Homo sapiens: one gene and its partner. The protein of the gene in region 1 interacts with the protein of each later gene in a biochemical or structural test. Each region holds a gene or a part of one and is shown on either strand. Other genes may lie near its edges.

Evidence for each region. Proteins that work in one complex are often made in the same cells at the same time.
Region 2: of the proteins of NEURL1 (region 1) and JAG1, one has a biochemical effect on the other in vitro, tested with the Homo sapiens proteins (one study listed by BioGRID).

Annotation. Positions count from the first base shown.
Region 1 is NC_000010.11:103,587,046-103,593,256, forward strand, and holds the end of NEURL1 (E3 ubiquitin-protein ligase NEURL1), read left to right. Parts: intron 1-2,468; coding exon 2,469-2,615; intron 2,616-3,088; coding exon 3,089-3,327; 3' UTR 3,328-5,501; downstream 5,502-6,211.
Region 2 is NC_000020.11:10,670,736-10,678,903, reverse strand, and holds the start of JAG1 (protein jagged-1 precursor), read left to right. Parts: upstream 1-4,904; 5' UTR 4,905-5,373; coding exon 5,374-5,454; intron 5,455-5,897; coding exon 5,898-6,203; intron 6,204-8,168. UniProt on the Homo sapiens protein: Ligand for multiple Notch receptors and involved in the mediation of Notch signaling. May be involved in cell-fate decisions during hematopoiesis. Seems to be involved in early and late stages of mammalian cardiovascular development.

The sequences.
Region 1 (6,211 bases):
CTCAAGAAAAGAAAGAGAGAGAGAGAAAGAAAGAGAAAGAGAAAAATCAAGCAAGCAGGCAAGATGAATCAGGCTTGGGTGAGAATTCAAGATGGAATAAAAAGAAATTAGGCTGGGATGCAAAAAAATAAAAAATAAAAAATAGTCAAGCTGATTTCATTGACCAGGATATACTACTCCTCAGGGCAAGGAAATTACATAAGAGTAAGGTACTTTCTTCCCTCAGCACCATCTAATAATAGCTAAGCAGCTTTCCAGTAAGGCTTCTGTTGCCCAAAGAGGTTTACTAGACTGGAGCAAAGGGGAGGCTTAAAAAAATCCAGATTTCTCTCTCCCAAGAGGAGGATAGGCCAAGGTGGGTGTTGAAGAAGAACCACCCAGAATTCAATATACATTCAACAAAGTGCTCCTGATCTGTTTGGAAAATTGGGCATCACAACCAGCAAATTGGTGTTTGAAGATCCTGACTGACTTCAAAAGAATAACTAACCAGTGGCAATGTATGAAGGGTCATTATTAACCTTATAGAGGAATGCTTGGCTTTGTGGCTAGCCTAAGTATACTAAAAATAGAAGGTTATTTCCTTCACTCATGTGTATCACAAAACATACAGCCAGTTCCATACTTATTGGTGAAACATCAGAAATATTCTCATGAAAGTCAGGAATATAATAGAGATGGCTTACAGATGTTGTTCTGAAAATTCTGGCCAATGCAACAAGGCAAGAAAAGTAAATAGGAGTTGTGAATTCCTGAAAGAAGGAGATGATAATTAACTTGGAAAAATATTAACACAGTAAGAGAAACCCTGTGGGCATCTATTGAATATTCTTAGAAATAATAACACAACTAAATGAATTAGAATAACTACAGATAAAAAAGATCTCATTGGGCACTTAGGTGTGTGCAGGGCATTATGTTAGGATTTGTAGGAGAGTCACAGGTGAATACTATTTCCTGTTCTAAGAAAGCTCATGGGCTGGGCGCGGCGGCTCACACCTGTAATCTCAGCACTTTGGGAGGCTGAGGCGGGTGGATCACAAGGTCAGGAGATCGAGACCACCCTGGTTAACATGATGAAACCCCGTTTCTACTAAAAATACAAAAAAAATTAGCTGGGCCTGGTGGCAGGCGCCTGTAGTCCCAGCTACTCAGGAGGCTGAGGTAGGAGAATGGTGTGAACCCGGGAGGTGGAGCTTGCAGTGAGCTGAGATTGCGCCACTGCACTCCAGCCTGGGCGACAGAGCAAGACTCCGTCTCAAAAAAAAAAAAAAAAGAAAGCTCATGGTTTCACTGGAGAAACAAAACTGGAGTCCTGGGCACAGAACAAATATTACCCCAGCCTTTGTGGTTGTGTAGTTGTATGTCTGTAGTGCATGTGTGTGTGTACTTGAGGGAGTAATGTGGTCTGGGGGTAGTCAGGGCGGCCCAGAGGAAGGAGTTTGAGGACAGCTGTCAGAGGCTCCCTGGACAGCCAGCTCTTTGAAGTCAGGGGCTGTCTCTAGCTTTCTGTCTGCACGGGGCCTGATGCCTGGTAGGTCCTTGGTAAGGATTTGTTGAAGGGAGGAGAGAAGGAAGGAGGGAAAGAGGGAGGCGAGGATTGTTAAAAAGGAGAGGAAGGCCGGGCGCAGCGGCTCACCCCAGCAATCCCAGCACTTTGGGAGCCGAGGCTGGCAGATCACGAGGTGAGGAGATGGAGACCATCTTGGCCAACATGGTGAAACCCCGTCTCTATTAAAAATATTAAAAAATTAGCTGGGTGTGGTGGCATGTGCCTATGATCCCAACTACTCAGGAGGCTGAGGCAGGAGAATCTCTTGAACCTGGGATGTGGAGATTGTAGTGAGCCGAGGTCGTGCCACTGCACTCCAGCCTGGCGACAGCGAGACTCCGTCTGAAAAAAAAAAAAAAAAAAAGGAGAGGAAGTGAGTGACGGAAGGAGGAAGGAGGGGAGGAGAGAATCTATGATCAGAACAAGGTGGGAAAAAGTGAAGGCACTGCAGAGGTGCCATGCAGAAAAGGTGGGTGATATCTGGGGACAGTGGTGAAGAGCTCAGGGCTCCGAACAGGAGGGTGAGGTTGCGGGGCAGGGGAGATGGTAATATACATGCTCCGGCCCAGGAAGCTTTGCAGAAAGCATACATGGGGAGGGGCGGAGGTAGGTGCCAGGCAGGGGCCTAGTTTGGAGCTGCTGTTTTAACAAGAAGAAAGCAGGATATGACCCTCCAGTTCATAGGTGAGAACAGAGGCCAGGCTGGGTGCTGTCTGGGGTCAAAGTCTTTAGCTGATTAGCTATACTCCACGGCGGTAATATCAAATGATCCCCGCGCCAGCCTGCAAAATCCCGCTCTTGGCCCTGTGGCTGGGCTGTGTGGTCAGGCCTGGGAACCCACTGTGAGGGACAGAGCTTTCTCCAGTTTGGCCTGGGCAGGCAGCTAGTGTGTCCTTCCCTCCCTCCCCTTTCACAGGCTCCACTATCCTGGCCGAGCGGGGTATCCCATCACTCCCCTGCTCCCCTGCCTCCACGCCAACCTCGCCCAGTGCCCTGGGCAGCCGCCTGTCTGACCCCTTGCTCAGCACGTGCAGCTCTGGCCCTCTGGGTAGCTCTGCTGGTGGTAAGTAGGCTGGCTCCTCTGTTCCTTGGTGACCATGTGGGACTGCAGCAAGGATGCAGCCTTTGTGTCCGGGGCTGGGAGTGGAGAGGAGCTGGAGTTGGGCTCAGTAAACCCTTGTTGGGGGGTGATTTCTGGGGTCATCCCCTCCTGTCCCCTAGCTGGGCAGTGCCAAAGGGTAGCTCAGGAGGGACCTACCTTAAAAGATTCTGGACCCTTTCCTTCCTCCATCTTGCCTTCTTTTCTCTCACTGCCTCCTAGCCACTCTGTCCCCTCATCTGGGGTTGGAGTGGGTCAGAAGTGGGGCTGCTCAGAGCTCAGCCTCTTCCCTTGTGCCCTGGAAGTTGGGTTGTCAGGGTGAACAGGCAGATCCTGATAAATGGAGGGGGACACAAGAGGCCGGGGAGCTCTCTTCCCGTGAATCCAGCGCCGGGTTGGGCCATGTCTCCTCCTGACTGGTGCCCCCTTGTCCTCAGGGACAGCCCCCAATTCGCCAGTGAGCCTGCCCGAGTCGCCAGTGACCCCAGGTCTGGGCCAGTGGAGCGATGAGTGCACCATTTGCTATGAACACGCGGTGGACACGGTCATCTACACATGTGGCCACATGTGCCTCTGCTACGCCTGTGGCCTGCGCCTCAAGAAGGCTCTGCACGCCTGCTGCCCCATCTGCCGCCGCCCCATCAAGGACATCATCAAGACCTACCGCAGCTCCTAGCCCGTTGCGGTGGCCCATCCCGCATACCCATCTTCTCGGGCTTCAGCCCAGTCCCAGCTGAGGAACAAGCCAGTGGGGCCCCTTCTCTTCCTCATTTTGGAAACTTTTCCTCCTCTATTAAACATGGGAAACTGAAGCCCTTGAAGGTTTGGGGAGAGGGGGGTATCAGGCAGGGAGGGGGCAGAGGCAAATCACCGGGCAGAGGGAGGGGAGGAGAGGAGGCCGCACTCTCCCTGTCTCTCCCGTCTCTGCACCCAGCTCCTCTCTGCATGCTGAGGGCTAAATTGGGATCTCAGCCTGCCCTAATCTTTCCCCATCTGAGGCAGGTTTCTAGGAGGTGTCTGTAGTCCATGTGGCACCTTTGTGAGAATTAGAAAACATGTACCTTCCTCTGGGCAGCTGCAGCCCTGAGCCAGGACATGTGGCCTGGCTAGTGCAGCATGGAGTGGATTTTAGGCTCATTTGCCCTCTCAGCCAACTGCCCTTGAGCAGTGTACAGCCTGCTCAACAACCGCCCTGGGCAGGCCGCTCCTGAGCTGCTGTCTCCCTCTCTGACCTATGCCTACCTTCTCTTTCTTCGTTCCCTGCCCACTGGGCATGGCAGCTGGGGGTGAGAGGCTGGTGGTTGCCTCCCGTCCTGGGCAGGCTGCAGCCTCATGCCATGTCTCTCTCCCACTACCTGATGGGCACATGGACAGGCTGCAGAGGGCTCCAGGTTCTGGGCCCCTGGCTGAGAAGGGGAGGATCCTGTCCTGGCTGTAGCCTTCCTGCCCCAATCATCTCGCTGGATGCCATTGCCCAGGGGTAGCCCTTCGGTATGGGCTGGGGAGAAGGGTTGGTCTTCTGCCAGGGTCCCTAAGAACAGGTTTGCAGCTACCCTCTCTGACCTTTTCCCCATATCTTGTGCTGTCCAGGGCCTAGGCTGATAGTCAGAGCCTGTGGCACACCTGGGATGGGCCAGGGCCCTGGGTGGGGAGGTGTGGGTTCCCTGGGCCAAGACCAGCCTTTTTCCTCAGTTTAATTAATTTATTTATTTGGTTTGTGGTTTTGGGTTTTTTTTGTTTGTTTGTTTGTAGGTGAGTTCCCATCCTCTGGGCCCCTAGAAATGCTGCCTTTGTGTGTGGGGTACCTGGGAAAGGGTGTGGCTGAGGCAGTCATAATGCAGTATCTTCCCCTGACTCCAGCCACAAAGCTCATACCCAGCCCTACCAATCATGAACTGGAACTCCATAAGGAGGGGCCAAATTGGGAGGCCTTTTGGCAAACAGTGTCTATTTTACAGAGAGGCAAACCAAGCCTCCTTAGTGCCCTGGGGCTGATGGTCACCCAGAGCCATAGAGCACCCTTCCTCCTGGGCCAGAGCTGGGTTATCATGGTTGGCTTAGGTACCTCAGGTGGCCCAGGAGGTCCCCCCTCCATAAGGACGTCAAACTTCCAGGAGGGCCAGTGTTCCTAGTGTGGGCCAGGAACAGGACAGGGAGACCTTGTGATGGCGGGGCAGGGAGCCTGTTCGTAGGGAAGATGAGGAGGCAAGGGCTGCCTCTCACACCTCCAGGTTCTCTAAGTTCTGGGGAGGGAGCGCCCCACCTGCTGAGGTCGGTCCTCTCAGCCCTGCCTGCCCTGGCCTGGGCTCTCCCAGCCTCCCAGCCCTCTGCCCCCTCAGATGGCTTTTTGTTTTTGTTTTTTTTTGCATCCATCAGAGACTGCACCTCTGTGTGGCAGGCAGGGCATGGGTTTTAGTCCTGGCCACTGACCAGCTGTGTGGCCCTGGCCGAGTCGTAGCCCCCTGGAGCCCAGCTTCCATTTCTATAAAATGGTTGTTTCGGGAGAGAGGGGCAGGCTTTCTGTGTGACTCGGGAGTTCTTCCGTGAGGGCTGCCAGGGGGTGGTGTGCCAGGACCTCAGGCTGGGCCTTTGTGCTGGCCTTGCAGTGGGTGTGTGGGGAAGTCACTGTCCCACTATGGGTCTCCACTACCCAGTCACTGACCCTGGGAGACCCCTTCTGTGTGGGAGGGAGCGGGGGCTGGCTAGCGGGCCCCCCAGCCAGGGATCCCAGAGGCTGAGGGTTGGGGAGAGGAAGCCATCATCTCATTACCTCTGTCAGTGCAGGGGTGGCTGCTGCTTCCCTTGTGCACTTGGGTCGCTGTGATTGTGAATAAAAGTGATTTCGTACCAGCCTGAGGGCGGTGCTGTGCGCAGAGCACTGGGGAAGGAGGGCCAGCGTGTGCGTGCACATGTGGGGGCAGGCTGGGGTGTGGAGGCCTGGTGTCCTGGATACTAGGGGAGTCATCAGGAGCTGTGGCCCTTCCCTGAGGGGTAATTGCAGGCCTCTGAGGCTTCAAGGTGGGCTGGGGCAATCAGGGAAGACTCCCTGGAGTCGGGGGCTGGAGCGTGACTTGGGTCTAGAATGCCAGGTGAGCCTTGCAAATTGGGAGAGGCTACTGCATCTGTGAGGAGCAGGGTGTGGTGGGGAAGGTGCCCTGGGATGGGGCTTCTCCTTAAGGCTGAGCAGGGCTCAAATCTGCCGCTTGTAGGGGGGTGCGCAGTGCCACCTAGGGGGCTAATGGGAGGATGACAAGTGGTCAACTCAGGTCATCAGGGGCTGTGCTCTGAGCTCCCCAGGAACAAGGCTTCCACCCCTCTCCCCAGGCTCAGACCCCCACATCTGGAGGGAGTTCAGCTGTGTTCCCACTGGTGGGTGCAGAGGCCTATACCAAATGGGTGGTGCCACTGAGGAGAAAAGGGAAGCCTCTGGATAGAGTCCTTTAGAGAAGTGTTCTAGATGCGCTAAGTGATCCGAGTGGTGGGGAAGGCTGAGGGGAGAGGGGTGGTGGGGAGGAGGCAGCCAGACTGGCCCCAAGGTCTAGGCACAGTGTTGGAATTGA
Region 2 (8,168 bases), on another chromosome or scaffold:
GGCCTGGTTGTGGTTGCTACAACTATACCCTGATTTTCAGTGTCTGTTATCTATAGGTTGGTGGTGGGTTTTTTTCCATGTAGAATATCTTGTGATGTGGGAGAATGATGTTGTGCTTCCTTAGGGAGCTGGCTGGACAGGTTCATGGGAGGCAGTAACCTGGCGGGACATGTGAGCTTCACTGGGCTCTGCTGGAAAGGGGCAGAAAGATAACATATCCGTGGAACAGGATTTGTGAACTTGTGTTAACATCTCTGCAAGTTCAAACAAGGAATAAGGAAGATCTTAATGGATATTTTACATGTGCCTTCTCTACAATTTGAACCTAACTGGAATGAAGAATGGGAAGAAAGAACTACTTTCCTTTCGTTCACTCTTTTTTTTTTTTTTTTTTTTTTTTTTTGAGATGGAGTTTCGCTCTTGTTGCCCAGGCTGGAGTGCAATGGTGCCATCTCATCTCGGCTCACCGCAACCTCTGCCTCCCAGGTTCAAGCAATTCTCCTGCCTCAGCCTCCTGAGTAGCTGGGATTACAGGCATGCACCACCACGCCTGGCTAATTTTGTATTTTTAGTAGAGACGGGGTTTCTCCATGTTGAGGCTGTTCTCGAACTCCTGACCTCAGGTAATCCGCCCGCCTTGGCCTCCCAAAGTGCTGGGATTAGAGGCGTCAGCCACCGCTCCCAGCCTCATTCACTCTTAAAATCTACAGTATCACCATTCCTTTGAAACACACTCTCCACTCAGTAGTGCTGAAGACCAGTATTGTGGTGTTGCCCACCATATTCTTGGCACCCACAAAATACCTGGCAAATCAATAACTATCTTCCCCAAGATTTAAGAAGGAAAATTTTCAAACATAGAAAAATGTCGAAGAATTTTGCAGTGAACACCACTGTAACACCTAAATTCTACCATTAAGACTTTACTGGCTGGGCGCTGTGGCTTATGCCTGTAATCCCAGCACTTTGGGTGGCCAAGGCAGGAGGATCATCTGAGGTCAGGAGTTTTAAAGCAGCCATGGTCAACATGGTGAAACCCCATCTCTACTAAAAAATACAAAAATTAGCCGTGTATGATGGCATGCATCTAATCCCAGCTGCTCGGGAGGCTGAAACAGGAGAATCACCTGAACCTGGGAGGCGGAGATTGCAGTGAGCCAAGACTGTGCCACTGCGCTCCAGCCTGGACAACAGGCTCTGTCTCAAAAAAACAAAAAAAGACTTTACTATTTTGCTTCAGCGTGTAACCACCCACCCAGCCATCCTCTCTGATCCCTCTAATTTTGTATGCATTTCAGTGTCAGTTGCAGATATCATTCCACTTCCCCGCTAAATGCTTCAGCACTCATATAACTGGAGGTGAATATCTGTTCACAATTCTTTTTTCCTCTTTTGAACACCTAATGAAATACAATCTTAAATGTACTATTTAATAAATTTTGACAAATGCATACACCTGTGTAGCCCAAACACCTATCAAAAATATGAAACATTACCCCACAATGCCACCAGAAGAGCCTCAAGCCCATCCCAGTGAAGCTCTGCTCCCACCCACCCACCCTCAAAATCACTCTTGTGATCTTTTTTCACCAGTTTTTCCTGTTCTGGAACTCCGTATAAATAAATTCATACAGGATGTAGTCTTTTGTGTCTGGCTTATTTCACTTAACATAATATTTTTTAGATCATCGATGTTACTGCTTATAATAGCAGTTCTCAATAAATATTGATTAGCTTATTTTAACCACAGTGTTGATTAACCAAGGATTACAGTTGATTAGATGTACTTAAATACAGCTAATATAGCTTGAATGTCTCTTATAAAGCTTTTGCAGGTTCAGAACTGCTATATGTTGTTGACTAGATAAAAGTGGGGCAAGTTTTCTGGGAAAAGAAAAAATGAGGCATCCATCATCTTTTTAGAATTAAAGGAAAAGATATCCAAGGATGATGTTTGAGCACACGAGACAGGTCAGATAGTAACTGACTACAAGCCTCTCCCCTTCTCTCAGGTGTAGGTATGACAGCTAAAGATGGCATTTTCCACAGGAAGGTTGTTCTGGAATATTCATTTACACTTGGAGGCTATACCCCAAAGCAGGACAAGCCCTGCCAAGGGGGAATCTCTGTATTTCAGTTCTCTCGGCAGCAGTTCCTCATTCTCTAAGGAGGGGGCCTGACAACCGGCTTCAAGGAAGCAGAGGATAGAGCTTCCACTCAGTGTCTGTTGTGGTAAACGTGACTGGCTTTTTGGGGGAGTCCCAATTATTTGGAAGAGCCCCAACTGAAAATTTTCAAAAGAATTCCCTCTAGCCCACAACTGCCTTCTCTAAAAGTGGGTTCCCAGGCTCAGGAAGGGTGTGGGACTCTGTGCTATGTGACATAAAAATTTTGTGTTTATCAGTGATTTGACATTCTTGTTAGGTGTAATCAGGTAGTTTTCACCTCTCAGAGTTTATATTTTCTTTCCTATCAGTCAAATGGGCTAAATTCACTGGTGGACTGGAGGTGACACCAGCTTGCATGTGGCCCAGATTGCAACTGGTGGCACCTGCAATCTCAGGTAGCCCTTCTAGGTGAAGCCAGGTGGAGATCTAAACACTTTAACTAAAGGTCTGGCTCCGCAGCCTCTTTCCTGAGAGCTGTGGGGGGCACAAGGCACAGAATTAAAACAGGGTCCGACATAGGGAACTCCAAGGAGTGTGCTCTTTAAGATCACACCAGCCTTTTTCAGCACCATTTTGCCTTTTTTTTTTTTTTTTTTTTTTTTGAGATGGAGTCTCGCTCTGTCGCCAGGCTGGAGTGCAGTGGCATGATCTCAGCTCACTGCAACCTCCGCCTCCCAGGTTGAAGCTATTCTCCTCTCTCAGCCTCCCGAGTAGCTGGGACTACAGGTATGTGCCACCACGCCCAGCTAATTTTTGTATTTGTAGTAGAGACCGGGTTTCACCATGTTGACCAGGATGGTCTCAATCTCTTGACCTCGTGATCCACCCGCCTCGGCCTCCCAGAGTGCTGGGATTGCAGGCGTGACCCACAGCTCGCGGCCCATTTTACTTTTAAACCGTTATTTAGCACCCAAACTCAGGGATACTTGGGAGTAGAAATTAGAACGGGACAGATAAGTGGGGAGACTGGTGTTGATGGAAACCTCAGTGAGAAAAGTGTAGATGGGATTACAGTTGACAACTGGTTGCCTTGATTTAGGATAATTGGGGAAAGGGAGGCTGGGGCACATTGAAACACCCAGGTTGTCGCTGCCTACCCCAGCTGCTAACATGACCAGCTGTAAACTTGCTCTGTTCTTAGAAACCTCCCTTCCAAAACATGGATTCTCCCGCCAGTGCTCAAGATGGGACACATTACCACTAAGTAAGCACTTTTCTTAGGAGCATTTCTTAGGCTGTTAAAATGCCAAGACTCCTAACCATCCTTGGTAGCTTTGAACCTATGTAAAGAGGTCAGTTAGCTGCCCTAGTTTATTCCTCAGAATGATGAGATTTGGCACTGAAAATATTGTTCATACTGAGCCTCCCATCAAATGCAATAAGTAGATAACCACAAATACCCACCCTTTTATGCTCATAACTCAGCATGTTGGAAACTATTTTCCCTTGACCTATTGCCAGCCCATCACGCCCCACACCCAGGAGAACTCAAGCCCCAAACCGGCCGCTGAATAGTCACGCTTTTCTGCAGGACATACCTACTATTAGGGCCAAAACTTTGTCCACCCTTCAAAGGAAGTCGATGTTTCCATATAAAGGTCCCCTCAAATGCAACAGCAAGCCCGTGGGAGAGGGGTTAGCAGAGGCTACGGCCAGCCCACGGGCTTTCTTCGACCTTGATTATGACCAGGAGTGTAGCTGTTAATTGCGAGGCTTGCCTCAAGGTGGAAAACAGTATCGGTTTCCACTGCCACCCCAGAGAAGGCAAGTTCCGCGGCTGGCGGTGCTGGGGACACGGTCCCTCCCAGGCCCATCTCTTGCCACCCAGAGAGCTGCTCGGAGGCCGCCTACAGGTGCAATCCCGGCACTGCGGCCGGGGCGTCGGGCCGGGGAGGGCGTCCAAGCCCACCAGCATCTCCGCCGGCCCTTCCCAAAGCCTGAACAGGGCCCCGGCGTGCCCGCCGCCTTCTACCCCCGGTTTCCCCGCGCCTCTGCCCCGGCGCGGTTTGGATAGGAAGCTGGGAGCCCTCCCAGGCTCCGCAGACTCGGATTTGGGAGGGGGTGGGACGCGGCCGAGGCTTCCCCTCGAATCTGCGGCAAGCCTGGCTCCAGGAAAGTTTTTCAAAGTTCCCAGCAGCGTCTGCCCAGGTCGCCTCCGCGGGGCGAGCAGACGGCGGCAAGCGCGCCAGCCTCGCCGCCGCCTCTGCCGCCAGCAGAGCGCTCTGGGCGGCTCGCTCGCGGGAAGCGGGCCGAACTCCCGGCGGGCAGGCAGGCCCTCCTCCCGGGGCGAAAGCCGCAGCTGACGCAGGCGGTTCGGAAGGCGGAAGCTGCCCCGCTCCGACCGCTCAGTCAGCGCCGCGGCGCCTACACCTGGGGCCCCGACGCGCGGGCAAAGGCGCACGGCCCGGGGCGCCCGAGGGGGCGGTCCCCGCTGGGGGCCTCCAGGCGTCCCTGAGCAACGATCCCTTCCAAGTACCTCCCCGCACTCTCCCTTCCCTCCTGGCCCGAAGCTCCCGAGGGCGGGGGTTGGTGTGGGGCCCTGGTTCTTCTACGCCGCCCTGAGCATCCCGCTGCCCCCAACCCCTTCCAAGTTCCTCCTCGCACTACCCCCTCCCCAGCAACGTGAAGGGGAGGGGCGTGCCCAGGGTGAGCACGCCCTCTCATGAATATTAATAAGCGCGCATGCGCCCTGCCCGGCGTGCTGGGTAGAGGTGGCCAGCCCCGGCCGCTGCTGCCAGACGGGCTCTCCGGGTCCTTCTCCGAGAGCCGGGCGGGCACGCGTCATTGTGTTACCTGCGGCCGGCCCGCGAGCTAGGCTGGTTTTTTTTTTTCTCCCCTCCCTCCCCCCTTTTTCCATGCAGCTGATCTAAAAGGGAATAAAAGGCTGCGCATAATCATAATAATAAAAGAAGGGGAGCGCGAGAGAAGGAAAGAAAGCCGGGAGGTGGAAGAGGAGGGGGAGCGTCTCAAAGAAGCGATCAGAATAATAAAAGGAGGCCGGGCTCTTTGCCTTCTGGAACGGGCCGCTCTTGAAAGGGCTTTTGAAAAGTGGTGTTGTTTTCCAGTCGTGCATGCTCCAATCGGCGGAGTATATTAGAGCCGGGACGCGGCGGCCGCAGGGGCAGCGGCGACGGCAGCACCGGCGGCAGCACCAGCGCGAACAGCAGCGGCGGCGTCCCGAGTGCCCGCGGCGCGCGGCGCAGCGATGCGTTCCCCACGGACGCGCGGCCGGTCCGGGCGCCCCCTAAGCCTCCTGCTCGCCCTGCTCTGTGCCCTGCGAGCCAAGGTAGGAGCCCTTCTCCGGGCCTCCCTCCCAGCCGTCCTCTCCCTCCCCTCGCGGCGCCCTGGGCGGTTGAGCCCCGCGAGCAGGCTCGGCAGCCCTCGAGCGCCCGACTCCTCGCCCCTGCGCCCGAGCGGCTGCACCTGGGCTGAGCGCGCCAACTCCCCCACGGGAGCCCCTGCCTCCTGAGGGTGACCCCTCCAGGCCGGACAGGGGCGCGTTCGCTCCGCTGTTGCCCCCCGGGAAGTCGTCGGATTTCTTCCGCACTCGTGCATTTTTTTTTTTTTTTGCCCCGGAATCATGTTGAGTCCTTGAACGTAGTTTCGCAAAATTATTTTCACTCGGCGAGGAGGGCTCGTCGGGGCGGGGAGTGGGAGGGAGTCGCCACCTCTATACTCGAAGAAAACAGCTTTCTCCCGCGCTGACCTACCTCCTTCCCTCGCCGGCAGGTGTGTGGGGCCTCGGGTCAGTTCGAGTTGGAGATCCTGTCCATGCAGAACGTGAACGGGGAGCTGCAGAACGGGAACTGCTGCGGCGGCGCCCGGAACCCGGGAGACCGCAAGTGCACCCGCGACGAGTGTGACACATACTTCAAAGTGTGCCTCAAGGAGTATCAGTCCCGCGTCACGGCCGGGGGGCCCTGCAGCTTCGGCTCAGGGTCCACGCCTGTCATCGGGGGCAACACCTTCAACCTCAAGGCCAGCCGCGGCAACGACCGCAACCGCATCGTGCTGCCTTTCAGTTTCGCCTGGCCGGTGAGTGACTACTCGGGAAGGAGGCCGGGCGGAGCCTCACACCCGCGCCTGGCCGAGCCCTGTTATCCCTTGCGAGAGGGATTTAAAGGGCTTTGGCTTGAAACTAGGCGCTAACTGGGGAAATCTCTAGGGGTGGCGGGTGAGGGAGCCGGGACACTATAGTTAGATCTCGGCTGGGGTAGTCGAGGTGGGTCCCATTCCTGCTGCTATTTGCTTAGTGCACAAAAGTGGGGATCCCAGAGGGTTTATGGGACCAGGCTCCTAGGAAGGCCGGTGTAAACTTGCAACTTGAAGTTCCCAGAGTAACTCTCCCGGCCCCAAGCCAAGAGATCGTTGTAGCTGATCTCTTTGCTTAACTAATTAAACCTGGTGCGCCGTGGAAGGCGACTCGGCGCAGTTCTGGCCTGCGAACGCCGTCCAAATTGGCAACCTCCCCTTTCCCGTGAACGGCCGGGAGGGCGGGTGTGTCCTTCCTGGAGGGTGTGGGGGAGTCCGTTTCCCGCTGCTCCCCGGGAGATTTTAGTGTGTGCGGGGGCGCTCTCCAGGTTCGGCTTAAGGGCCGGGGGCGGCCGCCGCAGGAGGAGGTTCTTGGGGCCCTCACAGGAGCTGTAGACCTGGGAACCCCCGCCCGCTGCTGGCCCCTTCCTGCCCCCGCCCCCGAGTGGTGTAGCTCTTGTGGCCTCACTTCCAGCGGTTCCCGGGCTCTGGAACAGCTGTGTTTGCAGACTTCCCCGGGAAGGGCGGGTGCACGGCCCCCGCAAGCCTTCGGGGGCCGTGCCAAGGCTTGGAAGGGGTGGTCTTCTGGAGGTAGTGCCTGAGGGTGTAAGTGATAGGCCCTCATCCCCCCGCCCCATTCCGCCCCCAAAGGAGCTCGAGGCCCGGGCCCAGCTGGCAGATCCTGCAGCGAGGCCCTTGCAACATCCCAAAATGGGTGGAAGGAAGATGGGTGCGATTGCAGAAGGGGAGGAAAGGGAAATGTTGGGGGTGTGCCCTCTGCCTGGCTCCTGCTGTCCAGGAGGCATGACTCATTGCCAAGACTGGGGCTTGGCCTAGCCTGTGCTGGGAGGGTGGGTGGTGAGAGGGGGAGCTCGGTGCCCCAGAGCATTGCTTTCCACCACGTGCTCTAATGGGGTGCACTCTGCTGCCTCCTGTCCGCCGGCTTAGGTTGTGATTCTGGGAGGAGACAGAGGGGAGACTATCTGGCTGTGTCTGTGTATGAAGCTTGGGGTGGCTCTTAAAATCCACGATTACAGGAGCTGGCATTATAAAGTGCCCTCTGCTGTGGGTGAGATAAGACAGTTATCAAAAACTGCCATGAAAAGGGGTTTATAAAAAGAAAAATTAAAACCAACGCTGTCTGTGAAGCTCTCTTGAGGTCCAAGGGCTGTTTCTGTTGTGGGATTTCATTTTTACCAAGAGTATTTATCTTGTTTGTTAATCCCCTATTAGGGAGAACTTTAAGCTAAAGAGTCTGGCTGCGTTTAAATCTGGCTGGCCCAAGCTGACTGTGAATACTCAAACTGCCCTTGAACGTGTGTTTGGAGTTTAGGGGGAAGGGGCCTGCAGGTGGTTCCACCCTCCTGCCGGAGGATCTGTCTGGAGCCCCTCGCTTTTCACAAGACCATAAAAGGAATCTTATTAGTGATGTGGAAAAGCAGCAGCCTGGCTGAGGCTCATTTTGGAGAGTAGGGTCAGAGGGATGGCTAACATGAAAACAAGGAGGCTTGCTCCCTCGCTGGCCAAGGAAAAGTGACCTAGAAAAGTGCGTCTGTCCGCTTTTGACACTTGGTCAGAGTCCTCAATGGAAAACGAGCGGAAATAGTGTGGGAGGGTAGGAGAGGCGATTGATTTGCATTTGCTGGTGCTCTTCTGTGGTTTCAGGCCCCACGGGTCACCAACCATGAAATAGACTCTCGGCTTTTCTCGAATGGGGGAAGACCGATGGGGCACCACTGAAAATGTGGT